Regions from separate parts of the Homo sapiens genome. Here regions 1, 3 and 4 are each linked to region 2. Evidence: fine-mapped expression QTL. A gene starts in region 2. Each other region holds a variant in brackets. All regions are shown on one strand. Distances are from middle to middle.

Region 1 (8,104 bases), 290 kb after region 2:
GTTATTTCCTGTTTAGCATGTGCTAGAATCTGCCCTACCATCTAAGGTTCACACATTTCTGCTTTTAAATTTTTAGAATTTATTTTGCCTTTTTTTTTTTGAGACAGGATCTCACCCTGTTGCCCAGGCTGGAGTGCAGTGGTGCGATCTCGGCTCACTGCAACCTCCCCCTCCAAGGTTCAAGCGATTCTCCTGCCTCAGCTCCCCGAGTAGCTGGGATTACAGACACCCACCAGCATGCCCGGCAAATTTTTGTATTTTTGGTAGAGATGGGGTTTCACCACGTTGGCCAGGCTGTTCTCGAACTCCTGACCTCAGGTGATTGACCTGCCTTGGCCTCCCAAAGTGCTGAGATCACAGGCATGAACCACCATGCCTGGCCTATTTAACTTTGTTTTTGTTTTACAGACAAGGTCTCGCTGTGTCACCCAGGCTGGAGTGCAGTGGCATGATCATAGCTCACTGCAGCCTTAAACTCCTGGGTTCATGCGCATGCGATCCTCCTGACTCAGCCTCATGAATACCTTAGACTACAGGTGTGTACCACTAGGCCTAGCTAATTAAAAAAATTTTTTTTTTTTTTTTGTAGAGATAGGGTCTTGCTGTGTTGCTCAAGGTGGTCTCAAACTCCCTGGCTCAAGTGATCCTCCCGCCTGGGCCCCCCAAAGCACTGGGATTACAGGTGTGAGCCACTGCAGCTGGTCCATGTTTTTATGCCATGAAATAATATATTCTTGAAGACCTCCATGATATAAGGTGCATGCCAAAGGAGTTTGATCCTTTTTCTTGCCTTTTGTCACAGAACAACTCTGGAGGAGGCAGCCAGGGCTCAAAAGCTGATAAAAAAGCTTCATGGACTCCATGGTCCAAAGAAAGAAGAAAATAACTGGAGTCCCCTCTTCTATTAAGAAGTAACCAAATAGGCTGGGCATGGTGGCTCATGCCTATAATTCTAGCATTTTGGGAGGCCGAGGCGGGCAGATCACTTGAGGTCAGGAGTTCAAGACCAGCCTGGCCAACATGGCGAAACCCCGTCTCTTCTAAAAATACAAAAAAATTAGCTGGGTGTGGTGGCATGCACCTGTAATCCCAGCTACTTGAGATGCTAGGCAGGAGAATCGCTTGAACCCAGGAGGTGGAGGTTACAGTGAGCCAAGATTGAGCCATTGCACACCAGCCTGGGCTACAGAGTGAGACTTAGTCTCAGAAAAAAAAAAAAGTAACCAAACTACTTCGCTATCCACAGCCTCACTCTATCCCATCCTGCATCCCAGCCTGTGTATTGGGGGAGGGAAGGTGTTAAACCGAACTGAGTTCTGCTCGCCTGGCACGGTAAGGCCAGATATCCACATGGAGGTTTGCAGCAGGAGAAGGGAAGGTATTTATATGCAGGGTGCCAAGCAAGGAGAATTGGGCAGCTAATGCTTACGTCCTGACCTCCCTGATGGTTTTTAAAAGCAGGGGTAAATTTTAAGAAAGCAGAGTTATAGGCAAAATTGTAAATCAATACATGGAGGGTACACCTTGGTTTTTGGCCTAAAAAGGCAGGATACCTTGAAGTGGGGCCCCCAGGTTATAGGTGGATTCAAAGATTTTCTGATTTGCAGTTGGTTAAGGAAGAGAAGCTTTGTTTAAAAATTTGGGGTCAGCAGAAAAGAACGTTAGCTCCTGGCTTCCTCCAGGCCCTTCAGGAACAAATTTAGAACAAAGAATGGTGGTCAGAGGTCGGTCATCAGTCTCCCCTCATCTGAGGTCTGTGCGCCCCTGGATGCCATTTGGTAGGGGTCTGGGTTTTTGAAAAACAACTTAGGGATGTATGTTTTTTTTACTTTTTTTTTTTCTGTTTTTGTTTTTGTTTTTTTGAGACAGGGTCTCACTCTGTCACGCAGGCTAGGGTGCAGTGGCGTGATCTTGGTTCACTGCAACCTCTGCCACCGGGGTTCAAGTGATTCTCCCACCTCAGCCTCCTGAGTAGCTGGGATTACAAGAGTGAGCCACCATGCCCGGCTAATTTTGTATTTTTAGTAGAGATGAGGTTTCACCATGTTGGCCAGGCTGGTCTCGAACTCCTGACCTCAGGTCATCCACTCTCCTCAGCCTCCCAAAGTGCTGGGATTACAAGCGTGAGCTAGAAGCTGTTCTTTGAGTTGGAGGGCACCTGGCAGAAGCGAGAACCAAAGGCATCTCATTCCTAGGGTGGCCAGAGTGGCTGCCTACTTGGGCTGCAGAATTGTCGATGGACTCTCTGGGCTCACGGTGTTTTTCTTGTCTGTTCTCATGCATTTATTCTTCCTGAAGAATTTCATTTTCAGTTCTCATGTCTCTGCCATACCTCTCCCTGAAACCCTGAAGTTGGAATTCTTTTTATTTTTGTTTTTGAGACAGAATCTTGCTCTATTGCCCAGGTTGGAGTGCAATGGTGCTATCTCCGTTCACTCTCTCTGCCTCTCAGGCTCAAGTGATTCTCCCACCTCAGCCACCCAAGTAGCTTGGACTACAGGCACGGACCACCACACCTGGCTAGTTTTTGTATTTTTTAGCAGAGATAGGGTTTCTTCATGTTGGCCAGGCTGGCCATGAACTCCTGACCTAAAGTGATCCACCCACCTTGGCCTCCCAAAGTGCTAGGATTACAGACATGAGCCACCACGTCCAGCCTGGAATTTTTTTTTTGAATTGCATTTCAATTTTTTCTTTTCTTTTCTTTTTTTTTTTTTTTTGAGATGGAGTCTCGCTCTGTCACCCAGGCTGGAGTGCAGTGGCATGATCTCAGCTCACTGCACCCTCTGCCTCCTTCAAGCAATTCTCCTGCCTCAGCCTCCTGCATAGCTGGGATTGTACGCACACGCCACCATGCCTGGCTAATTTTTGTATTTGTAGCAGAGACGGGGTTTCATCATGTTGGTCAGGCTGGTCTTGAACTCCTGACCTCGTGATCTGCCCGCCTGGGCCTCCCTAAGTGCTGGGATTACAGGCTTGAGCCACTGAGCCTGGCCATTTTTTTTTTTTTTAATTGAGATAGTGTCTCACTCTGTTGCCCAGGCTGGAGTGCAGTGGTACGATCTTGGCTCACTGCAACCTCCAGCTCCCGGGTTCAAGCGATTCTCATGCCTCCACCTCCTGAGTAGCTGGGACTACAGGCATGAGCTACCATGCCCAAGTAATTTTTGTATTTTTTAGTAGAGATGGGGTTTCTGCATGTTGGTCAGGCTGGTCTCGAACTCCTGACCCCAGGTGATCTGCCCACCTCAGCCTCCCAAAGTGCTGGGATTACAGGCATGAGCAACTATGCCTGCCCACATTTCAATTTGAATTACATTTTATTTTTTCCCACTTTATTGAGCCATAATTTACATACAATAAAATGCACCATTTTAGGGCTATATTTAGATGAGTTTTGACAAATGTATACGCCATGTCACCGCCAATGCAATTAAGCTATAGAACATTCTTGTTAGACCCCTGGAGATCCTTTTGCAATTAATCCTTACCTTCATCCCCAACTCTAGCTGCCGTCATTTTTTCCCCTCTCTAGAATTTTATATAAATGCAATCATACAGCATGTATTCTTTTGTTGTTTGTTGCTGTTGTTTTTTTGAGACAGAGTCTCACTTTGGTACTCAGGCTGGAGTGCAGTGGTGTGATCATAGCTTACTGCAACCTCAACCTCCCAGGCCCAAGGGATCCTCCTATCTCAGCCTCCCGAGTAGCTGGGACTACAAGTGCATGCCACCATGCCCAGCTAATTTTTATTTTATTTTTTGTAGATA[C/T]GGGGTCTCACAATATTGCCCATGCTAGTCTCAAACTCCTGGGCTCAAGCAATCCTCCTGCCTTGGCCTCCCAAAGTGGTGGGATTACAAGCATGAGCCACTGCCTTCGGTTTTGTGCTCTCTTCTGAATCTGGCTTCTTTCACTCAGCCTAATGGTTTTGAGATTCACTTATTTTCATTTATTGTATTGTTTGTATCAATAGTACATACCTTCTTTTTTTTTTTTTTTTTTTGAGACAGAGTCTCACTCTGTCACCCAGGCTGGAGTACAGTGGCACGATCTTAGCTCACTGCAATCTGCACCTCCAGGGTTTATGTGATTCTTCTGCCTCAGCCTCCTGAGTAGCTAGGATTACAGGCGTGCACCACCACGCCCAGCTAATTTTTGTATTTTTAGTAGAGATGGGGCTTCACCATGTTGGCCAGGCTGGTCTCGAACTCCTAATCTCGGGTGATCCGCCTGCCTTGGCCTCCCAAAGTGCTAGGATTACAGGCATGAGCCACCGTGCCTGGCCGCACATACCTTCTTAATGTTGAGTAGAACTGCACTGTATGGATACACCACCATTTATTTATTCTGCTTTTCCTTTTTATGTTAAATTGGGAAGAAAAGGAATCTTACAACATTGGCACTTCTTATTTAGGAACAGATCATCCCTGTCTTTTCTTACTCAGGCCTTGTTTGTAAGTCTGTAGTCAAGCTTTGCGGTTTTCTTTATGAACCCCTTGCCCTTTTCTTATTGTGTTGATTTCTAGGAACTGGATAGTTTGTTGTTACTGGAGGAGAATAATTTCTCTTTAACATTAGCTCAATGGTTGTTACTAGTGTAATGGAAAGCTATTGATTTTGTGTGTATGTGCATTCATCTTATATTGGGCTATCATTTGGAATGCCTGGTCTACAAGTGCACGCCACCCCACCTGGCTAATTCTTAATTTTTTTGTAGAGAAGGTGGGGTCGGGTAGATGGTCTCACTTTGTTGCACAGGCTGGTCTCCAACTCCTGGACTCAGGCAATCCTCCTGCCTCAGCCTTCCCGGGCTGTGATCTCCTTTTCTAAGAGTGATACTCCTTTTTCTTATACGTGTAATCTCTGAGGAAAGGGAGAAAAACGGGAGGCAGATGGTTGGGGTACAGGGGTAGAGAGACAGAGAGAGGAGGCGAAATGAGAAAGCTTGAACTCCTGATGTTGGGTGGGACAAGAATGAATTAAGTGGACTCCCTGGAGCTTAGCTGAGAGAAGGGTAATTGGAAAAGTCCAAGCAAGAGTCCATTTCCTATGTCAGAAAATTGTACAAGGTGTGGCCCTTTTCCTTTATTTCTAGTCTCTGCCCCAAGCATCAGAGGAGCTTTGAACGAAGGAGGGTGGGGCAAGCATGTGAGAGCAGACCACTCCCCACAGATCATTCTTTCCCCCCACTCCAAAGCTGGGCTTATCGGGGAGGGGAGTAGGAGATGATGCATCAGACACACTATCAGAGCCTTTGGGGCTGGGGCAATGGCTCATGCCTGTAATCCCAGCACTTTGGGAGGCCAAGGCAGGAGGATCGCTTGAACCCAGGAGTTCTAGATCAGCCTGGATAACAAAGGGAGATCCCACCTCTACAAAAAATATTTAAAAATTAGCTAGGAGTGGTGGCGTGTGCCTGTAGTCCCAGCTACTCGGGAGGCTGAGAGGAGAGAATTGTTTGAGCTTTGGGAGGTCGAGGCTGCAGTGAGCTGTGATCACACTGCTGCATTCCAACTTGGGCAACAGAGCAAGATCGTATCTCAAATAAAGGGGGTGGGGTGGGGGCACTTTGGGAAAGTTGAGGACATGAAAGCCACAGCGTTTGCTAGGGATGTCTCTTAAGGGTGGAAAAGGAAGGTTCCATAGAGAATGGTTGAAGGAAGAGACTGGAAAAATAATAAATTGGGGGTTTTTTTGGACATAATATTTAACCAGTTGCTTTTACAATGTCAACTGTATTTCTATCATCCCTGTTTTAGGAATGGTGCAATTAAGACCAGAGAAGACATTGTCATTTGGGGCGAAAGCCCATCTATCTCATCTTTGTAGAGACATCCCTCTCTGAGTCAGACTTGGATGTCGACTTTCATGGCACTGCCAGATCAGCAGCACCAGATAAAGCATATCAAGGACCTTGTTACTAAGACAGGCACTAGTGAAAATGGGGGCTGCCCCTGCAGCTACTCTATTGGGCCACTAGATAGCGCTTCTGCTTCGAGGAGGTAAAATGCTAAACCAAGCAATGGTGCTTTAGATGGTTTAAAGATAAGGAAGCAACTAACGGAAGTAATTTCCAGGGCAGGACTCTAAAAAGGCTATTTGGAAGAGAAGTACAGGTGCTCATTAGGTAGTGTGGAATGAATGTGATCTAGAAAATTGCTTACATTCCATAGGAAAAATTTACATTGCTAAACAAGGAAATTAAAAAGACACAATGAAATGCCACTTCATCCCTATTAGGATGGCTATTATATATAATATAATATAGATATTAAATGGAAAAATATATATTATTTATAATATATAAAATATATAATTTATAATATATTATTATATAATGTAATTATATTATATATTATTTATATTTATTGTTTTATATATATATAAAATGGAAAATAATTTAAGTGTTGGTTAGAGTGTGGAGAATTTGAAGCCCTGATTCGTTAGTGGTGGGAATTTCAAATGGTGCAGCCACTTTGAGAAACAGTTTGGTGGTTCTTCAAAAAGGAAACAGAAGTGACGTATGATCCACTCCTACGTATGTAAATATACCCCAAAGAATGGAAAGCAGGGACTCAGATATTTGTACACCAACATTCTTTCAGAAAACAGAAGCAACCCACGTGTTTATGAACAGATGAATGGATAAACAACATGTGGCATATACATGCAATGGAATATTATTCAGTCATACATGGAATGAAGTCCTAATACATGTTACAACATGGATGAACCTTGAAAACATGCTAAGCGAAATCAGCCAGGCACGAAGGGCTGCTGTATGATATCATTCCACTTATATGAGGTGCCTAAAATGGGCAAATTCATAGATACAGAAAGTAGAATAGAGGTTAAGAAAGCAGAGGCTGGGTGCGGTGGCTCACGACTGTAATCTCAGCACTTTGGGAGGCCGAGGCGGGCAGATCACTTGAGGTCAGGAGTTCGAGACCAGCCTGGCCAACATGGTGAAACCCTGTCTCTACTAAAAATACAAAAATTAGCCAGGGGTGCTGGTGCACGCCTATAATCCCAGCTACTTGGGAGGCTGAGGCAGGAGAATCACTTGAACCCAGGAGTTACAGGTTGCAGTGAGCCAAGATTGTGACATTGCACTCCATCCTGGGTGACAGAGTGAGAGGGAGACTCAGTTTAAAAAACAAACAAAAACAACAACAACAACAACAAAAAAACAGAAAGCAGAACGGATGTTGCCGAGGGAAAATGAAAAGATGTAGTTTAATAGGTACAGAGTTTGTTTGGGATGATGACAAAGTTCTGAAAATAGGCAGTGATCATGATTCATTGCACGTTATGAATGTACTTAATGCTACTGAACTGTATGCTAAAGAATAGTTAAATAGGCCAGGCACAGTGGCTCACGCCTGTAATCCCAGCACTTTGGGAGGCCGAGGCTGGCAGATCATCTGAAGTCAGAGTTCCAGACCAGCCTGGCAAAACTAATGTCTATACAAAAAATACAAAAATTAGCTGGGTGTGGTGGCGCCGGCCTGTAATCCCAGCCACTCGGGAGGCTGAGGCAGGAGAATCGCTTGAACCCGGGAGGCGGAGGTTGCAGTGAGCCGAGGTCGCGCCACTGCACTCCAGCCTGGGTGACAGAGCGAGACTCCGTCTCAAAAATAAAAGTAAAAAAATAAAGAATAGTTAAATGAAAAAATTATGCTGTGTATATTTTACCACAATAAAAATAAATAAATAGCTGGCCAACATGGTGAAACTCCGTCTCTACTGAAAAAAAAAATACAGGCCCGGCGCGGTGGCTCACGCCTGTAATCCCAGCACTTTGGGAGGCTGAGGCGGGTGGATCACGAGGTCAGGAGATCGAGACTATCCTGGCTAACATGGTGAAACCCCGTCTCTACTAAAAACACAAAAAATTAGGCCGGCACCTGTAGTCCCAGCTACTCAGGAGGCTGAGGCAGGAGAATGGGCGTGAACCTGGGAGGCGGAGCTTGCAGTGAGCCAAGATCGTGCCACTGCACTCCAGCCTGGGCGACAGAGAGAGACTCCGTCTCAAAACAAACAAACAAACAAAACAAACAAACAAAAAACAAAAGTTAGCCAGGTGTGGTGCCATGTGTCTGT
Region 2 (8,104 bases):
TAGGTATCACCACTAAAATCTCCAGGGGCACCATTGAAATCCTGGTGAGTGGACCTGGTTTGCCTGTGCTAACCAGGCAAATGGGGAGCTGCTTTTAGTGGCCATGGATCTGCTGGTTGTCCAACAGGTGTTTACTGCCCCACTATTATCTGGTTCAGAGTGATGTGCAGCTGATCAAGACTGGAGACAAAGTGGGAGCCAGCGAAGCCACGCTGCTGAACATGCTCAACATCTCCCCCTTCTCCTTTGGGCTGGTCATCCAGCAGGTGTTCGACAATGGCAGCATCTACAACCCTGAAGTGCTTGATATCACAGAGGAAACTCTGCATTCTCGCTTCCTGGAGGTATATGCTGTCAGCCTTGCCCCCTCTTACACTGATGGTTGAGAGCATGACAAGGTTCAGACTGAGTCCCTGTAACCAAGGACTGTGTTTTCATCTGTCTACCTACCTCATCTGTAAAATGTCAGTAACAACATAAGATTGTTGAAGGATTTTTTTTTTTTTTTTTTGGAGACAGAGTCTTGCTGTGTCGCCCAGGCTGGAGTGCAGTGGCACAATCTCCCGGCTCACTGCAAGCTCCGCCTCCGGGTTCACACCATTCTCCTGCCTCAGCCTCCTGAGTAGCTGGGACTACAGGCACCCGCCACTACGCCCGGCTAATTTTTTTGTATTTTTAGGTTTCACCGCGTTAGCCAGGATGGTGTCGATCTCCTGACCTCGTGATCCGCCCAACTCGGCCTCCCAAAGTGCTGGGATTACAGGCATGAGCCACCACGCCTGGCCAAAGGATTTAATGAATTAATGGATGTACAGTGCTGGGGCTGTTATTCTAGGGCCTGCATTGAGACTCACATTTTGCCATCAAAAGCCTTTTAAGAGGTGGAGGTTGCGGTGAGCTGACATGGTGCCACTGCACTCCGGCCTGAGTGACAGAGTGAGACTCTGTCTCACAAAAAAAATAATGCCCTTTAAATAATGAATAATAGTGATAGAAAATGTCATTTCTTGGACAAATGAAAAATTGAAATTAATGTATATAATTAGATATTATTAGCTACTCTTAGGTAGCTTCATTTGTTGAAAGTTTGACAAGTGAATGAAGTTCACATCTGGAAATCGTTGAACATTTTTCGTTCATGGAACTCAATGGCTACGTTAGTCGTTTATGCTTTTCACTGTTGTGGTAGGGGCTTTGGAAGTAAATGCCATCAACAATGGATACAGAAGACCTGGATTTGGAATAAGGGCAAAATTTATTTGATGGGGCTGAATTGCTCTGCCAGGAGCATTTGGTATGAGATGAAATGGCCTCTCTTGAGACTGAGCTGCCAACCTGGCAATTATTGTCTGCTAAGGGTTCTCTTTATTCACCCTTACTTGGACTTCCTTTCCTGTAGGGAATCTCACGTAAAATGAAATCTTCCCTCCCCCAGGGTGTCCGCAATGTTGCCAGTGTCTGTCTGCAGATTGGCTACCCAACTGTTGCATCAGTACCCCATTCTATCATCAACGGGTACAAACGAGTCCTGGCCTTGTCTGTGGAGACGGATTACACCTTCCCACTTGCTGAAAAGGTAAAAGGATCCCACCAGGACCACAGTGGGCCTGACTGTGACAAATTAGCAGGGTGATGTGGCCTTCTACCTTACTGCTTTTATAGTTGTATTTTATATAGCAGATAATTTTGTGAGGGGATATTTGAGAGGTTGGGAGGCAGGGAAGGCGTTTCTCACTTGAGAAATGACAAGAGACCCAAAGAGGGGGTTAATGGGCAAGAGCTGGGCCTTAGGAACCCTGCCTCACTAGGCCATACCCAAGCTGTCCTGCTTGGGCTGCTTCTGACAGGAAAGGCTTCACACGGACTTTGATATTGTTGGTCCTTAAACTCTACCAAGGCAGGAGGGTGGTGGGTAATAGAGGAGTGTGGATGACCATTTTGACCACTTCCCCCCTCCTTTCAGGTCAAGGCCTTCTTGGCTGATCCATCTGCCTTTGTGGCTGCTGCCCCTGTGGCTGCTGCCACCACAGCTGCTCCTGCTGCTGCTGCAGCCCCAGCTAAGGTTGAAGCCAAGGAAGAGTCGGAGGAGTCGGACGAGGATATGGGATTTGGTCTCTTTGACTAATCACCAAAAAGCAACCAACTTAGCCAGTTTTATTTGCAAAACAAGGAAATAAAGGCTTACTTCTTTAAAAAGTCTCTGGACTCTTAATTTTGTAATTTTTTTTCCTTTTTGACACAGGGTCTGGCTGTTGCCCAGGCTGGAGTGTGGTGGTGTAATCATAACTCACTGCACCCTTGAACTCCTGGGATCAAGGGATCCTCGTATCTCAGCCTCCCAAGTAGCTGGGACTACAGGCACACACCATGACACTCAGCTACTAATTTTTAAATTTTTTTTTTGTAGAGATATTGCACAAGCTGGTCTCAAATTCCTGGCCTCAAGGAATCCTGCCTCAGCCTCCCAAAGTGCTAGGATTACAGGCTTGAGCCACCATGTGCCTGGCCCTTAATTTTGAGGTTTATAGTGCCATATGCTAGAAACGAAAGCCATGGTAAAACCAGAGCTTTGTATTTAGGTGTTGATGTTTGGGTATCTAAATGAAGCTACCAATCAAACATCCTATACAGTTTTCTAGACACAGTTGTAACTATTACACTAGAATTACTGTTTCTATGGCTGCTGCATACTTGGAGTAGGTTTAGTGTCAGCTGAGATAGGCACCTGGTGGATGCTGGGGCCAGTCCCCTAGAGTAAAGTTTTTCAAACTGGGTGGTGCTCCAACTCGGTGGTAACCAATTTATATTTTCGAGATAGTCTCAAATATATTTGAGACTGGGGTGCAGTGGCTTGGACTTGGCTCACTGCAACCTCCGCCTCCTGGGTTCAAGTGATTCTCCTGCCTCAGCCTCCCAAGTAGCTGCAATTACCGGAGGCTGCCACCACACCGGGCTAATTTTTTTGTTGTTGAGACAGTCTCGTCCTGTCACCCAGACTGGAGTGCAATGGTATGGTCTCAGCTCACTGCAACCTCTGCCTCTCGGGTTCAAGCGGTTCTCCCACCTCAGCCTCCCCAGTAGCTGGGACTACAGGCATGTGCCACCACTCGGCTAATTTTTGTACTTTTAGTAGAGACGGGGTTTCACTATGTTGGCCAGGCTGGTCTGGAACTCCTGACCTTGTGATCTGCCCGCCCTGTCCTCCCGAAGCGCTGGAATTATACAAGGGTGAGCCACCGCACCCGGCCTTTTTTTTTTTTTTTTTTTTTTTTGGTATTTTTAGTAGAGACAAGGTTTTGTCATGTTGACCAGGCTGGTCTGGAAATCCTAACATCAGGTTGATCTACCCACCTCAGCCTCCCAAAGTGCTGGGATTACAGGCGTGAGCCACCATGCCTGGCCCCAGTATTTAAAGAGAAAGCAGCATCTGCTGAGAATAGGTGTTTTTGTTGTGATTCCTGTATTTCACTTAGAGATCTGTCTGCTGGAACATGATATATTCATTCTAACTAGGTCTGTGTCAAAGGTTTGAAAGCCACTGCTAACAGGGCTGACAACTAAGCTGTGGAGACCCTGTTCCCTAAATTGCAGCCACGTCTGCACGTAGCCTCTTGCCCTGTGGCCTTCAAAACTCCCAGCCTGGGGCGTCCAGCATTTCCCCAGGGCAGGGGCCTCGTTCAGTTCTGAACCTTCCCTGACCTCCGTATCCAGCCACGTTTGCTAACCCTGTACAAGTCATCCGCCAACTGAACTACAAACTGAGGACAAAAGACTAGTTCACCGACTCTTTTACCTAGTTTTTAGTTCCTGCTATCTAGGAAGCAACACTTGTTTTTCTAAAGAACTTAGTCATCACTCAGGAAAGGCCCACGTAGGGCTGGCCCTGCGGGCTGGAAGTGGGTCAGGGGCTGCAAGGCGGGCCCATAGCGTTACACCGCGGGCTCACCACGTTACAAGCGCTAGTCTCCCACGAGGCGCCCGGGGCTGAAGAGCGGGCCCTGGGGAGGAGGCCTTGTGGCTCGGGCGCGGGCCAACTTTAAGCCCGTGATCCGGCTGCCCGGGCTGCAGCGGCCGCCGTCCTGCCCGGGGGCACCAAGCCCGGGGCCCTGCCCCCGCTGGCTCCCGGCCTCGCCCTGCCGCGTGGGCCACGCTGTGACCCGGAAGCGTTCCGGAAGCGGTTCCGGAGTCAGCCCCGGCAGGATGGCGGCGGACACGCAGGTGAGGCGGGCGGCTGCGGGGCCAACGCGGCCAGGGACTGGGTGCGGACGGTGGCCGTCGGGCGGGGCCCCTCTCGCTCCTCGGCTTAGGGGCGTTGGAGGTGGTGGCTGTGGAGGTCGTAGTCTCGGGGCCGTCTCAGGCTGGACTCTCAGGGCTGCGGGCTTGGCCCGGCCCGGGCGGCGCAGGCAGACCGCGGGCTCGAGGAGTCCGGGGCTCCCGCCTCGACTTCAGCAGCTGGAGCTCGGCGGGGCCTTTGCCCGACCCCAGAGTTGCAGAAGTTCACTTTACCGAGCCTCTACTTCTTTTCTCCAAAGCCCTCCGGCTGTGAGCCCCGGGCCAACGCCAAGTCTTCCTTAAACTTTGTATTCAGCAAATATTCTTTGAGCACCTACTATGAGCAGGGACTTTGAGTGTAGTCTTTGGATTCATACAGATCTGGGCTTGAGTTCCTGCTCGTCGATTTCTGTGACATGCCAAACAAGTGACTTAACCCCGCCAAGTCTGCCTTTTCATCTATAAAATGAAGTTAAAACAATACTTATCTTAAAAGGTTGTTGTGAAGGTTCAGTGAGATAAAATACGGCTTGATATATGTTGGTTGTTATCAGATCCAGGGTTAGTGAAAAGAACTGTCCTGTCCAGGAAGAGTGTTACCTATGGGTACCTTGTAGTTCAGGAAGGACCTGGGAAAACCTTTTCCTCCACCCAGTTGTTATGTTTTAAGGTGAAAAGACATTGTCATGAGGCAGGGGAAGAACAGGTGTCTAAGGACAGCTGGGCTGATTTGGTGTCTCCAGGGTGATGGGATTGATTTTTATGTGTAGGCCCAGAAAATGACCACTTAAGCATTCAAAAAGACATTTACTGAGACTCCTATGCAGGTGGCTGATGTTCAAGTTATGTTGTACTGAATACTAGAAAGAAAAGCTTAGTATGAGAGGGTTAGGGGAATACATGCTGAATGTTTAACATTGATACTCACTTGAGGGAAAAATCTCTAGAGCTGCAATGTCCAGTATGGCAGCCACATGGCTTAAGTTTGTTAAAATTAAATTAAATAAAAAAATTCATTGTTTGGCTGGGCGTGGTGGCTCACCCTGTAATCCCAGCACTTTGGGAGGCCAAGGCGGGTGGATCAGTTGAGGTCAGGAGTTTGAGACTAGTCTGACCAACGTGGCAAAACCCCGTCTCTACTAAAAATGCAAAAAATTAACCGGGTATGGTGGCATGTCTGTAATTCCAGCTACTCAGGAGGCTGAGGCATGAGAATCGCTTGAACCTGGGAGGCAGAGGTTGCAGTGAGCTGAGATCGCACCACTGCGCTCCAGCCTGAGCAACAAGAGTGGGACTCTGTCTCAAAAAAAAAAAAAATTTAGTTCTTCACTTGTACCAGCCACATTTCAGTGCACAGTTAGCCACATGTAGCCAGTGGCTACCGTATTGGGTGGTGCAGGAGAATATTTCTGTATTTTATAATTTTTGTATTTTTAGTAGAGATGGGGTTTCTCCATGTTGGCCAGGCTGGTCTCGAATTCCTGACCTCAGGTGATCCTTCTGCCTTGGCCTCCCAAAGTGCTGGGATTACAGGCGTGAGCCACCGCACCTGGCCTGAAATTATTTTTTATTATTTTATTTTATTTTTTGAGACGGAGTTTCTCTCTTGTTGCCCAGGCTGGAGTGCAATGGCACGATCTGAACTCACTGCAACCTCTGCCTCCCAGGTTCAAGCAATTCTCCTGCCTCAGCTTCCCGAGTAGCTGGGATTACAGGCATGCGCCACCATGCCCGGCTAGTTTTTGTAGAGACAGGGTTTCACCATGTTGGGTAGGCTGGTCTCGAACTTCTGACCTCAAGCAATCTGTCCGCCTCTGTCTCCCAAAGTGCTGGGATTACAGGCGTGAACCACCATGCCCGGCCTTGTCTTCAGTATTCTTTTTTTTTTTTTTTCGAGACGGAGTCTCGCTCTGTCGCCCAGGCTAGAGTGCAGTGGCACAATCTTGGCTCACTACAACCTCTGCCTCCCGGGTTCAAGCGATTCTTCTGCCTCAGCCTCCCAAGTAGCTGGGATTACAGGCACCCGGCACCACGCCCAGCTAATTTTTTTTTTTGTATTTTTAGTAGAGACGCGGTTTCACCATGTTGGCCAGGATGGTCTCGATCTCCTGACCTTGTGATCTGCCTGCCTTGGCCTCCCAAAGTGCTGGGATTACAGGCGTGAGCCACTGCACCCAGCCTTGTCTTCAGTATTCTAAAGGAAAATGATTTCAACCTAGAATTCTGTATTTGGCCAGAACATTTTCATACTTGCAAGGAGTTTACAAAATGGAGGCTGTGCTTCACCCAAACACAAGAAAGTACATGTTCAGGGTGATAAACTGTGCCCCAGCTGTAGAGGATCACATGCCTAATTGGGGCAGGTCAGAAAACTCTGGGAGAGATTTCCTTAGGAAGGTGGAATTTGATGGAATACCTGATCTCCCTAAATGTACTGAGATTTAGACAAATGGCAAAAAGTTTGGGTTTTAATTATTTATAAGAACAGATAAAACAAGTCAAACTGAAGTGAGGTGGGAAAGGGTAATTATTAACACCAGGGGCATAAAAAAGCTGGGAAGAATCAGAGTTTATTAAATGGATGTTGAATGCCATTTACATATAATGTAATCACTGACTACTGACCTAGCCTGTATGTGAAACTGGGGACTTCCACTGGGGAAATGGGGAGGGTGTGCGATGGGGTCACAGCAGGAAAGGGAGCTGTGGTGGAAAGGTAGCAAAACTGAAAAATCAAGAAGCACATGCAAGTTACCTCCATATTTAGAGATACTTAGATATATGGAGGTAACTACCCAAATATCCACCAGATCAACCTAAGGGTTGCCCATGGAGAGTGAGGGCAAGGGACTGGTTTTTATGGCAGACTTCTCAGAACTCTTTGGTTTTGACTCTGTGTGCATCTATGACTATAAAAACAAAAGACATTTTAAAGTTAAAACTACATTATTTATGTAGAAGACAGTTTTGGACATCAGTTTCTTTTATTCATTGCCAATAGAATTATGGCAGGGATTTAAGCACGAAAAACTCAGCATTATTTTATTTCTGTGTGTACGCTTGACTCTTACGCTACTGATAAGGCCTGCCTTTGAAATACCCTCAAAAGAAAAACATGATAACCCCACTGTGTTAAGTTACATGAGCCTTATCATGCCCTGCTCTACGGCTTATGAATCCACAACCTGTCCACTTGGTAGCTTGTAGAATATTGCTCAAGAGCAGATTTTCAGGGATGTTTGCAAACTGCCCCCCATCACTGGGTCTTATGCTTATGTCCCTATGCAGGGGACTGCAGCTGTGGTAACTCGATGGCTGTTGAAAGCTAAAGATTTGTTAGCATCAGTTTATAGACCTGTTTGGTTTCAAAGTTAGTTTCAAAAACGCAGGTGCTGTGGCTCTCGACCCCACTCTGAGCAGTGACTTCCTCTCTTGGAGATGGTTTCTTCATCGCCTATAAAATGGGGATACTGATGCCTCCCTTGCAGGCTTTTTGGTAGTAGTAGCCAACTTTTTGCTTGGGATGAGAGTAGATGCACCTTATACGCAATCTCATTTAAGCTCCATAACAGTCATATGAGGTAGCTGCTATTGTCCGCATCTTATAGATGAGAAAACTGAAGATTGGGGGAGTGACATTATTTGACTAAGTTTCTACAGCTAGTAAAAGGCAGAGCTGGGATCCAATCTCCTAACCTTTCCCCCTTTAGCCAGTGTGCTTATCCTCTGCCAGTGAGTTGCCAGGATGCTGACATTCCCTTTATGGGGAGGTTAAAGTGAGATAATGTAAAGGGAACATAGTTGGCACGTACCAGGCCCTTGCTAGATTTTG
Region 3 (8,104 bases), 27 kb after region 2:
AAATGTACGCTCAATACATTTTCAGCTGCCTTAGGGATATAGTGAACTCACATCCATGACTTAAAAACAGTCTATGAGGCAGGCGAGCTGGCTCACGCCTGTAATCCCAACACTTTGGGAGGCTGAGGTGGGAGGATTGCTTGAGCCCAGGAGTTTGAGACCAGCCTGGGCAACAAAGTGAGACCCCCATCTCTACAAAAAAATTAAAAAAATAGCTGGGCATGGTGGTACATGCCTGTGGTCCCAGCTACACAGGTGGCTGAGGCAGCGGGATTGCTTGAGCCCAGGAGTTCAAGATCAGGCAGGGAAACATAGCAAGACTCTGTCTCTACCAAAAATTATATAAAAAGTCTATGTACTATATATATCAGTTTGCATTATTGCTGCATTGAATGACCATCAGTTGTAGGTGGGACTTTGAATTGTAGATGGCAAAAACTTGGTTTTACCTAGTCTCTTCAGCTTGAGCTAGTTCTGCTCGTTGCATTTATTTTTAATTTATTTTTTAAAAAAGGAATGCAGAGTGCCAGAACTCAATGCTCATTGCTTTTAAAATAAACATAATATAAAATAAACCTTTTAAAAACAAAACGAAAATAAACCTCTGTAATAAAGATTTCTTGGATTCAAGTATAAAACATTATCTGGGAAACTGCTTTCATTGTGAAATGTTCTGATGTACCCATTTAGTAGCTATGGAAACATGGAACAACAAACCAAGGTGTTGGGGTAGGGGGGAAGAAAACATGTGCTTGAGCTATAGTTTTTTTTTTGAGATGGAGTTTCTCTCTGTCACCCAGGCTGTAGTGTAGTGGTGCGATCTCAGCTCACTGAAACCTCCGCCTCCTGGGTTTAAGCGATTCTCCAACCTCAGCCTCCTGAGTAGCTGGGATTACAGATGCCCACCACCATGCCTGGCTAATTTTTGTATTTTTTAATAGAGACAGGGTTTTGCCATGTTGGCCAGGCTGGTCTTGAACTCCTGACCTCGGGTGATCTGCTCGCCTCAGCCTCCCAGAGTGTTGGGATTATAGGCATGAGCCACCGTGCCCAGCCAAACTATAGTTTTAACTGGTTTCTCTTTTTTTTTTTTTTTTTGGAGATGGGGTCTCGTTCTGTCACCCAGGCTGGAGTGCAATGGCACAATCTCGGCTCACTGCAACCTCCGCCTCCTGGGTTCAAGCGATTCTCCTGCTGCAGCCTCCTGAGTAGCTGGGATTACAGGCGTGCACCACCCCACCCGGCTAAGACAGGGTTTCACCATATTGGTCAGGCTGGTCTGGAATTCCTGACCTCATGATCCCCCCCGCCTCAGCCTGCCAAAGTGCTGGGATTACAGGCATGAGCCACTGTGCTTGGCTTCCTTTTTTTTTTAAAAGAGTTTAGTTCAGAGGTCAGCAGATTTGGACCCAAATTTAGAATTTGGGTCCGAAGGTCATCTGTATGGGGGAAGAGTACCAGATGGGAATTGACAGGATTGAGGGTGGCTCTGACTTGCCTCAACTAGCCGTGTGACCTTGAGCAACACACCTAATGTCTCTGCTTATCCATCAATTGAATAACTGGACCACGCCCAGCTAATTTTGTATTTTTAATAGAGACGGGGTTTCTCCATGTTGGTCAGGCTGATCTCGAACTCCCAGCCTCAGGTGATCCACCCGCCTCGGCCTCCCAAAGTGCTGGGATTACAGACGTGAGCTACCGCACCTGGCCATAAGGATTATCTTTCTCCCTCTAATTTTGTGGCTGTAGAGTTTGATTTAAGTTTTGATTTCACTTCACTTCTTTTTGAGATATTTGAAAAATTAACTGAAGGGTTTTAGTCGTCTGGTTCACAGCTGGTTAGATAAATCCTTTCTCAGTCCTGTCATTTCCAAGGATCAGGATGTCCTTTAAGGTGCTTGTCCTCTCTCCACAGGTGACACGCTGTTGCAGGCCCTGGACTTACTGCCCTTGCTCATCCAGACAGTGGAGAAGGCAGCCTCCCAAAGCACTCAGGTTCCCACCATCACTGAAGGGGTTGCCGCAGCCTTGTTGCTCTTAAAGTTGTCAGTGGCTGACTCACAGGCTGGTATGAGTCCAGAGGTGTCTAGGATGGTAGAGACAGGGGCCTCTGACAAGAGTCCTTGGGAGGTGTGTCTTGATGTTCAGGATTAGCTTGGTCCTGACCACACTGGATCAGCCACAGGTTTGCTTGTCATCTGCAGGATGAACCTCATGGTTGCATGGGCAGTGGGAATGCAGTCAGGGGACTGTGTCACTGTCCTCCTTCATTCTGTTGCTCCAGTGCTACACAGGCTTGTAGATGATACCTAGATGGACCAGGGTTTAGTATTGGGACTGTTTGTTTCAGTTGGTTATACATTCATACAGTACAAAATTCAAAAGGATATAACATGAGAAGCTTCCCCTTAGCCCTGTCTTTTCCCGTAGCCGTTAAGTTTCCCTCTGTAAACGGTGTTACCAATTTTGCACTTTGGGAGGCCGAGGCAGGCGGATCACGAAGTCAAGATTTCGAGACCATTCTGGCCAACATGGTGAAACCCCGTCTTTACTAAAAGTACAAAAATTAGCTGGGTGTGGTGGCGCATGCCTGTAATCTCAGCTACTCGGGAGGCTGAGGCAGGAGAATCGCTTGAACCCAGGAGGCGTAGGTTGCAGTGAGCTGGGATTGCTCCACTGCACTCCAGCCTGGGTGGCACAGTGAGACTTTGTCTAAGAAAGAAAAAACAGTATTACCAATTTTATGTCCAGACATAGTGTGTTATGTAATTGAACATGCTGGGGAACATACGCTATATGCCATATTACTTATAATATATAATATATATACTATATATAATATATCTTCGAAATGATTCCAAATCAGTACATCAGAAAGAGCTTTCTCATTATTTTTTGTGGCTACATCGTATTTCAGGCTTTCTTTTCTTTTTTTTTTTTCTTTTTTTTTTTTTTTTTTTGAGACGGAGTTTCGCTCTGTCGCCCAGGCTGGAGTGCAGTGGCGCGATCTCGACTCACTGCAAGCTCCGCCTCCTGCCTCAGCCTTCCGAGTGGCTGGGACTACAGGCGCTACGCCGCCACGCGCGGCTAATTTTTTATATTTTTAGTAGAGACAGGGTTTCATCGTGTTAGCCAGGATGGTCTCAATCTCCTCACCTTGTGATCCACCCACCTCAGCCTCCCAATGTGCTGGGATTACAGGCGTGAGCCACTGCGCCCGGCCAGGCTTTCTTTATTTCATCTCCCAATCTCTGCACTGGGACACACCTGAACTTAACTCCTTTGGTTAGGAATGGAGCTCAGCTCTCCTCATGTAATATCGTGTGCTCACTGTGGCCATGCAAGGCACTGGGCTACCTGGGGGAATGCTAAGATGAACATGACCTTCTTCAGCAAATTTCAGGGTGCTTACTTCACAGTAGGCGCGAGGAAATACAGAAATATATCCGTAGCTTAAGACAAAATGCGGCATTAGAGCAGTTTTGAAGGAGAGATTGCTTTTAGTTGGGGGGGTGGGTATTGGGAAGGGCTTCATGGAGGAAGCATTTGAACTGGTACCCTGAAGCCTCTGAAGGATTTCATTATCCTGAAGGGATGGCCCAGTGTGAGTCCAAACAGCCCCAGTCAGGGAAGGGCAGGGAAAGCCAGAGTCTGTAAACCTCAGGTATTCCAGCTTGGCGCCTGGGGTGGATGGGAATTCCGGATGAGAAGCAGTTCACCTAGGATCCTGTAGGCAGCAGAGAGCCACCGAAGAGTTTCGTACAGGAGGTGATACCAGAAGGACTGAGGTCAGTTCCCCAAATGGAAGAGCACTGAGCCTCCTGCTGCAGAGGAGGGTTTGTCAGCAAAGCCCACCCCAGCAGCTTCAGGATGGAGT[A/G]GATCAGCTCTGGGGGATGTGGTGAGCTGCGTCGTGGGGTAACCTTTTGTTTCTTGCAGAGGCCAAACTGAGCAGTTTCTGGCAGTTGATTGTGGATGAGAAAAAGCAGGTTTTCACTTCTGAGAAATTCCTGGTCATGGCTTCAGAGGATGGTAAGTTACTCCATGCTTAGTTGAACTCGGGATTGAGGCAAAGTCTCTTTGGAAAATCTTCAGAGAGGACCCTTTCTTGACCAACCAGTCAGGTCTGCAAAAACCTGGGCCAGAGTGATCTGGCCAACAGCTTAGCTGTTGTGGGAATAAATTCATTCCTGTAGGGAACATAAGGTTAGGGAAATGGGACTTGGGAGATGTGTGGAGACAGAGCAGTAATGGCTGTGGAGCTACGACATGAGCTGTAATTATAGCTGATTGGGTAATTGGTGCTGTCTCGGAGGTTTTCTTGTGTTAAGGCAGCTGAGAAGCTCTTGTGGAGTCTGGCAGGCTCTACTCCCCCACCAAGAGACACAAAAACTACTGGTTTCTATCCTGGCAGAAAAGGAACAGTTGAATTTTAAATATGTGTTTAATATTCTACGTTGCCTTAGGAGTGTCTGCCACTAATTGGTGATTTGAAGAGTCGTTTGACTCATAAATCGCAACATCCCATTAATGAGCTACAACTGTTAGTCATTTCCTGGTTTTAGAAAAATTTTTAGCTAAATTTTGAAAAGGAAATAGACTAATGTAATTCAAAAATAGATACAAGAGGGTCTACATTGAAAATTATACCCCTGCTTTGATCTCTGGCTACCCAGTTCCTCGGCTATAGATAACCAATTTTATTAGCTTCTTCTGTAGCCTTGATATTTTATATATATGCAAGTAAATACCTGTATATGTTTGTTCTGTACCTTTTTTACACAAATGGTAGTGTGCCTGCCGTATGTACTGTGCTTTCTAGACCTGGAAATGAGTCCATATCAGTATATAATGAACTTCATCATTCTTTTTTTTTTTTTTTTTTTTGAGATGGAGTTTCGTTCTTATTGCTCAGGCTGGAGTGCAGTGGCATGATCTCAGCCCACCGCAACCTCTCCCCCTGGGTTCAAGCGGTTCTCTTGCCTCAGCCTCCTGAGTAGCTGGGATTACAGGCATGTGCCACTACCACCAGGCTAATTTTGTTTTTGTTTTTTTTTTTCTTAGTAGAGATGGGGTTTCTCCATGTTGGTCAGGCTGGTCTCGAACTCCCGACCTCAGGTGATCCACCTGCCTCGGCCTCCCAAAGTGCTGGGATTACAGGCATGAGCCACCATGCCCGGCCTCTTTTTATAACTCCATAGTAATTTGTTGTTGTTGTTGTTGTTGAGACAGGATCTCACTCTGTTGCCCAGGCTGGAGTGCAGTGACACAGTCATGGCTCACTGCAGCCTCGACCTCCCTGGTCTCAGGTGGTCCTCCCACCTCAGCTTCCTGAGTAGCTGGGACTACAGGTGCACACCACCACATCTGGCTAATTTTTGTATTTTTTTTTAAGAGACGGGGGTTTCACCATGTTGCCCAGGCTGACCTTGAACTCCTGGGCTTAAGCAATTCTCCTGCCTCAGCCTCCAAAAGTGTTGGTGTTACAGACATGAGCCATCGTGCCTGGCCTTAGTAATTTTTTTTTTTTTTTTTTGAGACAGAGTCTCGCTCTGTCGCCCAGGCTGGAGTGCAGTGGCGCGATCTCAGCTCACTGCAAGCTCCGCCTCCCGGGTTCACGCCATTCTCCTGCCTCAGCCTCCTGAGTAGCTGGGACTACAGGTGCATGCCGCCACGCCTGGCTAATTTTTTGTATTTTTAGAAGAGATGGGGTTTCACAGTGTTAGCCAGGCTGGTCTTGGTCTCCTGACCTCATGATCCGCCCACCTTGGCCTCCCAAAGTGCTGGGATTACATGCGTGAGCCACCGGATCAGGCATTTTTTTTTTTTTTTTTTTTTGAGACAGTCTCACTCTGTTGCCCAGGCTGGAGTGCAGTGGTGCAATCTCTGCTCATTGCAACCTCCACCTCCCGGGTTCAAGCAATTCTCCTGCCTCAGCCTCTTTGAGTAGCTGGGACTACAGGTGCACACCACCACACCTGGCTAATTTTTGTATTTTTAGTACAGACGGGGTTTTACTATGTTGGCCAGGCTGGTCTCGAACTCCTGACTTCAGGTGACCTGCCTGCTTTGGCCTCCCAGAGTGCTGGGATTACAGGCGTGAGCCACTGTGCCTGGCCGTAATTTTTAATTATTAAAAAAAAATAGGCTGGGGCCGGACACGGTGGCTCACGCCTGTAATCCCAGCACTTTGGGAGGCCGAGGCGGGCAGATCATGAGGTCGAGATCGAGACTATCCTGGCCAACATGGTGAAACCCTGTCTCTAATAAAAATACAAAAATAAGCTGGGCGTGGTAGCAGGTGCCTGTAATCCCAGCTACTCGGGAGGCTGAGGCAGGAGAATCTCTTGAACCCAAGAGGCGGAGGTTGCAGTAAGCCGAGATTGCACCATTGTATTCCAGCCTGGGTGACAGAGCAAGACTCCGTCTCAAAACAACAACAACAACAACGAAAACAAAATACATAGGCCTGGCATGGTGGCTCATGCCTGTAATCCTAGCACCTTGAGAGGCTGAAGTGGACTGATCACTTGAGGTCAGGAGTTCAGAATTATCCTGGCCAACATGGTGAAACCTCGTCTCTACTAAAAATAGAAAAAAAAAAATTAGCCAGGCTTGCTGGTGGGCTTCTGTAATCCCAGCTACTCAGGAGGCTGAGGCAGGAGAATTAGTTGAACCTGGGAGGCGGAGGGTGTAGTGAGCCAAGACTGCACCACTGCACTGTAGCCTGGGCAACATAGCGAGACTCTGTCTCAAAAAAAGTAAAAATAGGCTAGGTGCGGTGGCTCACGCCTGTAATCCTAGCACTTTGGGAGACCGAGGCAGGTGGATCACCTGTGGTCAGGAGTTCAAGTCCAACCTGGCCAACCTGGTGAAACCCCGTCTCTACTAAAAATACAAAATTTGGCCTGGTGCAGTGGCTCACGCCTGTAATCCCAACACTTAGGGAGGCTGAGGCAGGTGGATCACGAGGCCAGGAGATCGAGACCATCCTGGCTAACATGGTGAAACCCAGTCTCTACTAAAAAATATAAAAAAATTAGCGGGTGCCTGTCGTCCCAGCTACTCGAGAGGCCGAGGCAGGAGAATGGTGTGAACCTGGGAGGCGGAGCTTGCAGTAAGCCCTGAGATCGTGCCACTGCACTCCAGCCTGGGCGACAGAGCGTGACTGTCTCTCAAAAAAAAAAATATATATATATATATGTGTGTGTGTGTGTGTGTGTGTGTGTGTGTGTGTATATATGTGTATATATGTATATGTATATATATGTGTATATATGTGTATATGTGTGTATATTATATATAAAATAAATAAAAATAGTATATACTTTACTGATTCCAAAATACATGTGTGCATAAGCAAAAAAAAAAAAACAAGCTGTAATTTCACTTCGAGTGATAATCACATTTATATTTTGGTGTTAATTTTCAGTTCATTCCAGTTATTTCTGGGTATTGGTATGTATGTGTACACTTAACTATTTTAAAAACACTTCCATTCCTTTTCTTCCCTCCAAGCCCTGTGTACTGTGTTGCATCTGACAGAGAGACTTTTCCTTGACCACCCGCATAGACTCACTGGCAACAAAGTTCAGTACGTGAGGCTGGCTTACCTTTTCTTTTGGGCCAAATGAGGCAAAGGCTGGCAGGAACCCGAGAAAGGGTGTGTGGCAGGTGGAAGGGTTGGCTGTGGAAAGCCCTGCTCTTGGCCTTCCCCCAGACCTGTCTGTCCCTGTGCTTGCAGGCAGTACCACCGGGCTCTGGTGGCGGTGCTCCTGAGCCGCACCTGGCACGTCCGCAGGCAGGCTCAGCAGACAGTTCGGAAGCTGCTGTCCTCTCTTGGGGGCTTTAAGCTGGCGCACGGACTCTTGGAGGAGCTGAAGACTGTCCTCAGTTCTCACAAGGTGAGGGCATCTGGGCTCTAGAACTGGGGCTCTTGGATCCACTTAGCTGCCCCTGCTTACGATGTGGGGTTTTGGCTGGGCCACTCCCTGGGTGTTCTTTCTTAATCTGTGTGATGCCAGCATCTTCTGCTCTGCCGTCAAGCTCCAGTAACATCTTTCATAGGATTCCTTTTCCTTTTCAGAGACTTTTTTTCACATGT
Region 4 (8,104 bases), 42 kb after region 2:
TGAGAGGATGCCCTGCCGTTGGCCGCCTGGGTTACAGACCTCCCCACAGCCTCATCTCGACTTACCTGCCGTTCTCTCCTAGAATGGCCCGGAGTTGCTGCCTCGCGTGGCCATGCTGCGTCTTCTGACTTGGGTGATCGGGACGGGCTCGCCTCGCTTACAGGTGATGTGGTTTTCAGTTGGCTGTTGCTGTGACTCAGTTCGTGACCCAGACCTCAAGTCCCAGTGTAAAGGGTGGAGTCCTAGTTTCCTTTCAGCCCTTACTTTTGGACTTTGGTAGAAAGACTGCTTTAGAGAGCCAGCCTGACTGTTGTTAGCTAGTGAGGGGTTTTGCTTGGGTCCTGCCACTGGAGCTGGGGTCTTAGCCCTTGCAGTGCTGTAGGGGTGGGTGTTCTCAGTGCATATCCCTCTCTGGCCCCCTAGTAGTAAATGAGTTGCTGACTGAACCAGTGGATTGATGTTCTCCTTAGGTTCTGGCTTCAGACACCCTGACCACCCTGTGTGCCAGCAGCAGTGGTGATGATGGCTGTGCCTTTGCAGAGCAGGAGGAGGTGGACGTGCTGCTCTGTGCCTTGCAGTCCCCGTGTGCCAGCGTGCGGGAAACCGTGCTCCGGGTGTGTGCTCAGTCTCAGAGCCACTGCAGTGTCCCTTGTCACTCTATGCAAGTGCAAATTGCATGATGGGCATTTGAGAGAATGTCCCTCACTCTGGTGGGAGGCCTAGAGGCAAAGAGAAGAAGTCACATGGTTGGGGTCTCTCTGAGAATCAGAACACTAAGCAGTCATGATGTATCACTGTATTTTTTCCTTTACCTTGGAACACTTCACTTAATTTTTAAACTGGAATGTGGACCTTGGTACTTCCACGGACAGAGCTAACTTGCAGGAGGAGTTCAATTCTTTAGCCCACTGCCATGTACTTGGTTTTTCTTCATGGCTTTTGGACCAAAAACTGAAGCATCCCCTTGTAGTGGTAAGACAGTGGTTCCTACCTGCTGATCCACAGCCTCCTGCTATTGATATGTGACAGAGTTTTCACTGGCTTTTGGTAAAATGTGAAAATGATGACAATATAGTAAATTTTTCCTTAAAATTTTTTTGAACAAAAGGAATACGCTTTTTCTGAGGTTTTTATCTGTCTGGTTTATTTAACGTTTTAATTTTCACATTAAAAAAACATTTTACCACCTCACACTCTAAGGAACTTACTTAGAGTTAATTTTAATTGATTTAACTTTAGCCACATGCGGTTAGTGGCTACATCTTGGACAGTACAACCTAGAGAGAGGTGAGGAGGCAGGTCAGAGGCTCTTCTGAAAGATGATGCCTCACACGGTCCAATCCCACCCCTTCCAGGGGCTGATGGAACTCCACATGGTATTGCCAGCACCTGATACTGATGAGAAGAATGGCCTGAACCTTCTGCGGAGACTCTGGGTGGTCAAGTTTGACAAGGAGGAGGAGATCCGGAAGCTGGCTGAGAGGTGAGAGAGCCAGCATGTCGCTTTCTCCTGCTGCATCCTCTCTTCCTTTAGGAAATAACTGAACCCAGTGTGCTCAGCCTCCAGTGGGAAGAAGGGCTGGGCTGGCAGGGCAAGTGCTGCAGATCTTTGTCTAAGCAGCCCCTGCCTTGGATCTCCCACAGGCTCTGGTCAATGATGGGCCTAGACCTGCAGCCAGACCTCTGCTCCTTGCTGATTGACGACGTGATCTATCATGAGGCGGCTGTAAGGCAGGCAGGGGCCGAAGCCCTCTCCCAAGCAGTGGCACGTTACCAGCGGCAGGCGGCGGAGGTTATGGGCAGGCTCATGGAGATTTACCAGGAAAAGCTCTACGTGAGTGACCTGTGCAGCCCTGATGCAGTCTGGGTGTGTGCGGTTGGGTGGGTCTCTGCTCACCCCGCTACTGCTCCAGACAGGAATCTCGGGGCTCACGGTGGCTCAGGGTAGCTGCGGCTAGTTTCCTGCCTCACAATCCTGGTGCCCAGGTCATTGATCTGCCCGTTGCAAAGCATTTACCAACTTGTCTGTTGCAGCGGCCGCCCCCAGTGCTGGATGCTTTGGGACGAGTTATTTCAGAATCTCCTCCAGATCAGTGGGAAGCCAGGTATAACAATTGTTCAGCCTCGTTCTACTCCAAGCTTTGTGAGATGTGGCAGGTTGGCTGGGTGGGTGCTGTGAGGAGGCAGCATGGGTTAATGAAAGAGCAGGACCTCCCTCAGAGTCGGGGAGGCCTGAGTTCCATCAGCCCCTGGAAGGGGTGGGATTGGACCGTGTGAGGCACCATCTTTCAGAAGAGCCTCTGACCTGCCTCCTCACCTCTCTCTAGGCTGTACTGTCCAAGATGTAGCCACTAACCGCATGTGGCTAAAGTTAAATCAATTAAAATGAACTCTAAGTAAGTTCCTTAGAGTGTCCTCTCCTGCACTAGCTGCGTGACCGTGAGCGTGTTTCTCCTTTTCCCCAGGCCTCTGTTTCCTCATCTATATGCAGGGCACAATAACAGAAGCTACCAGCCTTTCTCCACAGAGCCCATGAGTAGCAGTTGGAGGATTAGACAGATGTCTGGGAGCAACTGGGACATTGAAAGACACTTGCCTCCCACAGAGCAGGCTCAAAACACGCAAGGGTGTTAGTTCTCTGAATGGCTCATCCTGGCCGTGTCCACTCCCGTGAGGCCTTGTGTGTCAGTGTAGGGTGGTGTATGGGCCCATCCTGGCTTATTTTTCATTCCAGACCATCAGCCAGGGATAGGACACAGATTCTTTGCTCCATGACTGGAAAGAGTAACAACACTTTGCCCTTGGAGAATGTGTTCACTTCCACAGGCCTCTACATCTGGTTCTTTTACCTCTGTGTTCTCTTACAACCTGCTTTGCAGGTAGAGGGGTGAGCATTGCACTCACATTCCTCTCTGGGGAAACCAACACAGGGCTGGTCACCCAGTAGGAGGTAAAATCAGGGCAGATGGCAAGTCTCCATATGACAAGTGGGTTGTTCCAGAACATTGGGTGAGCACTGGGTGGTGGGCTTCAGGCTGTTCTCTGCCCCCAAAACAGTGTTTGCCTCAGGCAAGCTCCCTCTCCTTGCCGTGCACCAGCAGAGGTTCCACTGGCAGAGGAGGCCCCCTGACTGCCCCTCCTGATGTGCTCCCACTTCTTTCCCAGGTGTGGCTTGGCGTTGGCCCTCAACAAGCTCTCCCAGTATTTGGACAGCTCTCAGGTGAAGCCACTCTTTCAGTTTTTTGTCCCTGATGCCCTCAATGACCGACACCCAGATGTCCGGAAGTGCATGTTGGATGCAGCCCTCGCAACGCTCAACACTCATGGGAAGGTAAGGGGGTCCCAGCCAGGGAACACCCACGGGAAGGTAAGGGGGTCCCAGCCCGCTAAGGAGACACGGGAGGCAGGCGCTAGGGCTGAGCAGGGGCCAGAAATGCTGAGTGCCAAGAGTCCTGGCAGAGCACTTTGAGCCAAAAAGACCATGATAGTGTGTTAAATTCTTTTAAGTCTGTGGCAGTCCTGCCAGAAAACTGGAAGAGCCACTGGCTGGCATGTCAGGATGCCTGTCCCAGAGCTAGACTTGGTCTTGGTCCTCAGGGCAGGGACTGTTGTCCCCAGATGCAGCCT[G/A]TAGGGTTGACCTGAGGCTCTGAGGGGTTTGGCTTTCCAGGAGAACGTCAACTCGCTGTTGCCAGTATTCGAGGAGTTCCTGAAGAACGCGCCCAATGATGCCAGCTATGATGCTGTGCGACAGAGTGTGGTGGTCCTGATGGGCTCTCTGGCCAAGCACCTGGACAAGAGTGACCCCAAAGTGAAGCCCATTGTTGCCAAGCTCATCGCTGCCCTCTCCACCCCCTCCCAGCAGGTACCTGCCATCTGGCCTGGGACCCACATGTCGGTTAGAGAATTGGGACCCGGCTGTGGTTAGGCGGTGGGATACTAGGGGTGGAGTTGGACAATCAGGGCCCTGAAAGCCCAGTTCTTGTTAAGGATTCACCCCCTCTCGCAGGGGAGAGCCTGGTTTATAGTCAGGAACACTCCTGGAGAGGGAGTTTCTTTGTTACTTTGTTCTAGTAGACCTCCCAGATAGTTTCATTTTTTTCTACTCACCTGGTTTATAGTGAAGAATGCCCCTGGAGAGGGAGTTTCTTTGTTACTTTGTTCTAATAGACCTCCTAGATAGTTCCATTTTTTCTATTCACTAACGTGCACTGGGAATCCAAAGGGAAAAAAAATAAAAGGTCAGGCTTTCTCTTATGTCAAGCCTTTTTCTGGCCCTCTACATGTGTTGGTTGTGTGTTACAGGTGCGTTTTAATGTAGCCTCTAAGCTACAGTGCAAATAAATTTCTTTTTCTTTGTTTTGAAAAACACGCATGTATGTATATATAAATATATATATATTTATATATATATATTTTGTGTGTGTGTGTGTGTGTGTGCGCGTGTGTGTGTGGTTTGCATTTTGGACCACTTAGAGTGTCTTCATAAAGTGAACAGTTGGGCTGGGCGTGGTGGCTCATGCCTATAATCCCAGTGCTTTAGGAGGCTACAGGTGCGTTTTAATGTAGCCTCTAAGCTACAGTGCAAATAAATTTCTTTTTCTTTGTTTTGAAAAACACGCATGTATATATATATAAATATATATATATTTATATATATATATTTTGTGTGTGTGTGTGTGTGTGTGCGCGTGTGTGTGTGGTTTGCATTTTGGACCACTTAGAGTGTCTTCATAAAGTGAACAGTTGGGCTGGGCGTGGTGGCTCATGCCTATAATCCCAGTGCTTTAGGAGGCTGAGGTGGGAGGATTGCTTAAGGCCAGTAGTTCGAGACCAGCCTGGGCAACATAGTGAGATCCTGTCTCTACAAAAACTTTAAAAATTAGCCAGAGGTGGAGGCCATGCCTGTGTTCCTAGCTACTCAGGAGACCGAGGCAATAGGATTGCTTGAGTCCAGGAATTCAAGGTTATAGTGAATTATGATTGTGCCACTGCACTGTAGCCTGGGTGACAGAGTAAGACCCTATTTCTAAAAACAAAAACAAAAAACAACAAAAAACTTTACCAAAAAAATGCACAGTTGAAAACCAGTTTCCAAAATTGTGGTCAAATATGGTGTCAGAAAGCCTAAGCAGCAAAAGAGTCGCACCTGGGCACCTGCCAGCATGGCCTCGGGGTTGCTGCTCCCAAGCTGGGCTTAGTGAGCTGCGGCTGGGAGGCAGGATTGAGTGTCTTTTGGTTCCACTCAATTTGTGCCTGGTCCTATAAGGCCCTGCCCAATTTCTCTGTGATTTTGACAAGTTTGGAAACAGAGACACGGGCTGTTTTTATGGAGGCAAAGCAGCACACTTCTCTGGAAGCTTTCTTTCTGAGTGGATTTAGTCTTTAGAGTCCCTTCCTTGGTCCCCTGCCCCACTGCCCAGGCCTAGGTTTTCCATTTAGACCAGAAATGGCACCATATGGGCCAAAGCTTTTGTCGTCAGCAGATTGTAGTGTGCACCCTCAGAGGTATACAACACTGTGTATACCTGTTTGCTTCTCTGGTGCCCTGTGACATCCGCAGGCAGTGGCTGAGATGGGGCTTGGGACATCTAGTGGTGGGTGCTGTGTAGAATGGTCAGACCCCCCACCAACCATGAAACGGCTGCAGCGGAGCCACAGCATTGACAGGTGGGCCCTTCCCCAGGTCCAGGAGTCCGTAGCCAGCTGCTTGCCACCCCTTGTGCCAGCCATCAAGGAGGATGCTGGAGGGATGATCCAGAGGCTTATGCAGCAGCTGCTGGAGTCAGACAAGTACGCAGAGCGCAAAGGGGCCGCCTATGGCCTGGCGGGCCTGGTGAAGGGCCTGGGCATCCTCTCGCTGAAGCAACAGGAGATGATGGCGGCACTGACTGATGCCATCCAAGATAAGAAGAACTTCCGCCGGCGAGAGGGTGAGCATCTCTGAGCTTGGGGCTGCCCAGCATGGGAAGTTGGTCCCCAGGTTGCCAGAGGAAGGAATCTGACCGTGGCGCCCCAGGTGGAGGCCGTTGCTTGTGCGTGTACTACAGAGGGCCCCGCTGTGTGCGACCCAGTCCAGCTGCGTCCTTGCTGCTTTCCTTGGACTTGCAAATTTTTTTTTCTTTTCTGTTTTTTTTTTTTGAGACGGAGTCTCGCTCTGTCGCCCAGGCTAGAGTGCAGTGGCGTGATCTTGGCTCACTGCAAGCTCAGCCTCCTGGGTTCATGCCATTCTCCTGCCTTAGCCTCCCAAGTAGCTGGGACCACAGGCGCCCGCCACCACGCCCGGCTAATTTTTTGTATTTTTAGTAGAGGCGGGGTTTCACCGTGTTAGCCAGGATGGTCTCGATCTCCTGACCTCGTGATCTGTCCGCCTCAGCCTCCCAAAGTGCTGGGATTACAGGCATGAACCACCGCGCCCGGCCACAAATTTCTAACTCAGCAACACCCTTAGCTGAGAGAGGTTTGGCTTTTCTTTCTTTCTTTCTTTCTTTTTTTTTTGAGATGGAGTCCCACTCTGTCTCCAGGCACAATCTCGGCTCACTGCAATCTTCACCTCCTGGGTTCAAGCAATTCTCCTACCTCAGCCACCCTAGTAGCTGGGGTTACAGGTGCCCACCACCATACCCAGCTAATTTTTGTATTTTTAGTAGAGACAGGGTTTCACCATGTTGGCCAAGATGGTCTCTATTTCCTGACCTCGTGATCTGCCTGCCTCAGCCTCCCAAAGTGTTGGGATTATGGGTGTGAGCCACCGCGCCCGGCCAAGGTTTGGCTTTTTTAACTGTTAGTGCCAAGAAGTGAAGGTGGCTCCCCTGTGCTGTCCTCCCTTTCGCTCAGCCACATTCCTTTGCTGGGGCTTCTTGAGCTGAGGCAGAGGGTGCTGCCTCCTCATGGGGCATCTACTAGTTCCACAGCTGTTTCTGAGTGTTTCCAGAGGGGTGGGAGGTGGCAGGGAGGTTGCTGTCCCTTCTGTTCTCTGTGGCTACCCCCAGGGGACATTCTCTTCCCAGCCGTCCCACCTTCTTTTCCCCTAGGAGCCCTCTTTGCCTTCGAGATGCTCTGCACCATGCTGGGGAAACTTTTTGAGCCGTATGTGGTTCACGTGCTGCCCCATCTGCTCCTGTGCTTTGGGGATGGAAACCAGTATGTGCGTGAGGTAAGTCCCCGGACTGCTCGGGAGAACAGCATGGAAACTTTATGAGATGTGTTCCCAGCTGTGTCTGCAGGCCTTGGCACAGGGTCTGACATAATAGAACCCCAGTAAGCGTTGGTTATAGGAGGAACGCTAGGACTGGTGTCAGGCCTTGCCCCTTGCTTGGGTGAGGAGGCCCCTGAATGTGTTTTCTCCCCCCTTGAGGCTGCAGATGACTGTGCCAAGGCTGTGATGAGCAACTTGAGTGCTCACGGGGTGAAGCTGGTGCTCCCCTCCTTACTGGCTGCCCTGGAGGAGGAATCGTGGCGGACCAAAGCTGGTAAGACCACTCGCTCTGCCTCTCTTCCCAGCTTCCTGTTATGAAAACCAGCCTCAGCAAGGATCCTGGGTAGCCACAGCTCTTGTCCTGTGAGCTCCCCAGACCAGGGATAGGGTTAAGACTCTGCCTTTTTAAAAATTTGAGATGGAGTCTTGCTCTATCACCCAGGCTGGTCTTTACCTTTGGGGCTCAAACCATTCTCACAGGAGCATGCCACTACACCTGGCTAATTTTTGTATTTTTTTTTGTAATGATGGAGTCTCGCTATGTTGCCCAGACTGGCCTTGAATTCCTGGGTTCAAGTGACCCTCCTGCCTTGGCCTCCCAAAGCACTGGGATTGCAGGTGTGAGTCACCACGCCTGGCCAGCTCTCCCTCTGGCAGTTGGATCTTTCTATAGTTTATGTGCTTTCATGCCAAGAAACAGGTCTCTGACAAGAGCCACAACCCTAAGTCAGGATATCCTAAAGCTCTAAAGCTCCTCTTTGGCTTTAAAGTTTTCCCCCCCCAGGAAAGCTCTTTTTGAAAATAACCTTAGGCAGGAGAATCTCTTGAGGGCAGGAATTTAGACCAGCCTGGGCAATATAGCAAGACCCTACCTCTACCAAAAAAAAAAAAAATAGGCCAAGTGTGGTG

Evidence for each region. PIP is the estimated chance that this variant, and not a neighbour inherited with it, causes the effect.
Region 1: its variant is fine-mapped to the expression of GCN1 in unexposed skin (GTEx, PIP 0.93).
Region 3: its variant is fine-mapped to the expression of GCN1 in whole blood (TOPMed, PIP above 0.99).
Region 4: its variant is fine-mapped to the expression of GCN1 in whole blood (INTERVAL, PIP 0.98).

Annotation. Positions count from the first base shown.
Region 1 is chr12:119,900,098-119,908,201 of GRCh38, reverse strand. No RefSeq gene overlaps it. Among named protein-coding and RNA genes, the nearest start is that of CIT, 27 kb to the right of the region's middle. The variant C/T (reference allele first, on the strand shown) is at 3,772.
Region 2 is chr12:120,190,794-120,198,897 of GRCh38, reverse strand. It overlaps GCN1 (GCN1 activator of EIF2AK4), which reads left to right and starts at 4,183. Exons shown (of 58, transcript NM_006836.2): 1 at 4,183-4,218. The coding sequence starts at 4,201. RPLP0 (ribosomal protein lateral stalk subunit P0) reads left to right here. Exons shown (of 8, transcript NM_001002.4): 5 at 1-44; 6 at 159-344; 7 at 1,436-1,576; 8 at 1,964-2,199. The coding sequence ends at 2,125. RefSeq lists enhancers at 1-83, 203-702 and a silencer at 3,886-4,475.
Region 3 is chr12:120,164,136-120,172,239 of GRCh38, reverse strand. GCN1 (GCN1 activator of EIF2AK4) reads left to right here. Exons shown (of 58, transcript NM_006836.2): 15 at 1,919-2,071; 16 at 3,940-4,032; 17 at 7,519-7,594; 18 at 7,745-7,904. Among named protein-coding and RNA genes, the nearest start is that of MIR4498, 13 kb to the right of the region's middle. RefSeq lists an enhancer at 5,259-5,308. The variant A/G (reference allele first, on the strand shown) is at 3,881.
Region 4 is chr12:120,148,971-120,157,074 of GRCh38, reverse strand. It overlaps GCN1 (GCN1 activator of EIF2AK4), which reads left to right. Exons shown (of 58, transcript NM_006836.2): 27 at 83-163; 28 at 471-614; 29 at 1,356-1,483; 30 at 1,645-1,834; 31 at 2,035-2,105; 32 at 3,166-3,331; 33 at 3,668-3,862; 34 at 5,684-5,930; 35 at 7,032-7,153; 36 at 7,355-7,469. It overlaps MIR4498 (microRNA 4498), which reads left to right and starts at 1,576; the gene lies at 1,576-1,641. The variant G/A (reference allele first, on the strand shown) is at 3,628.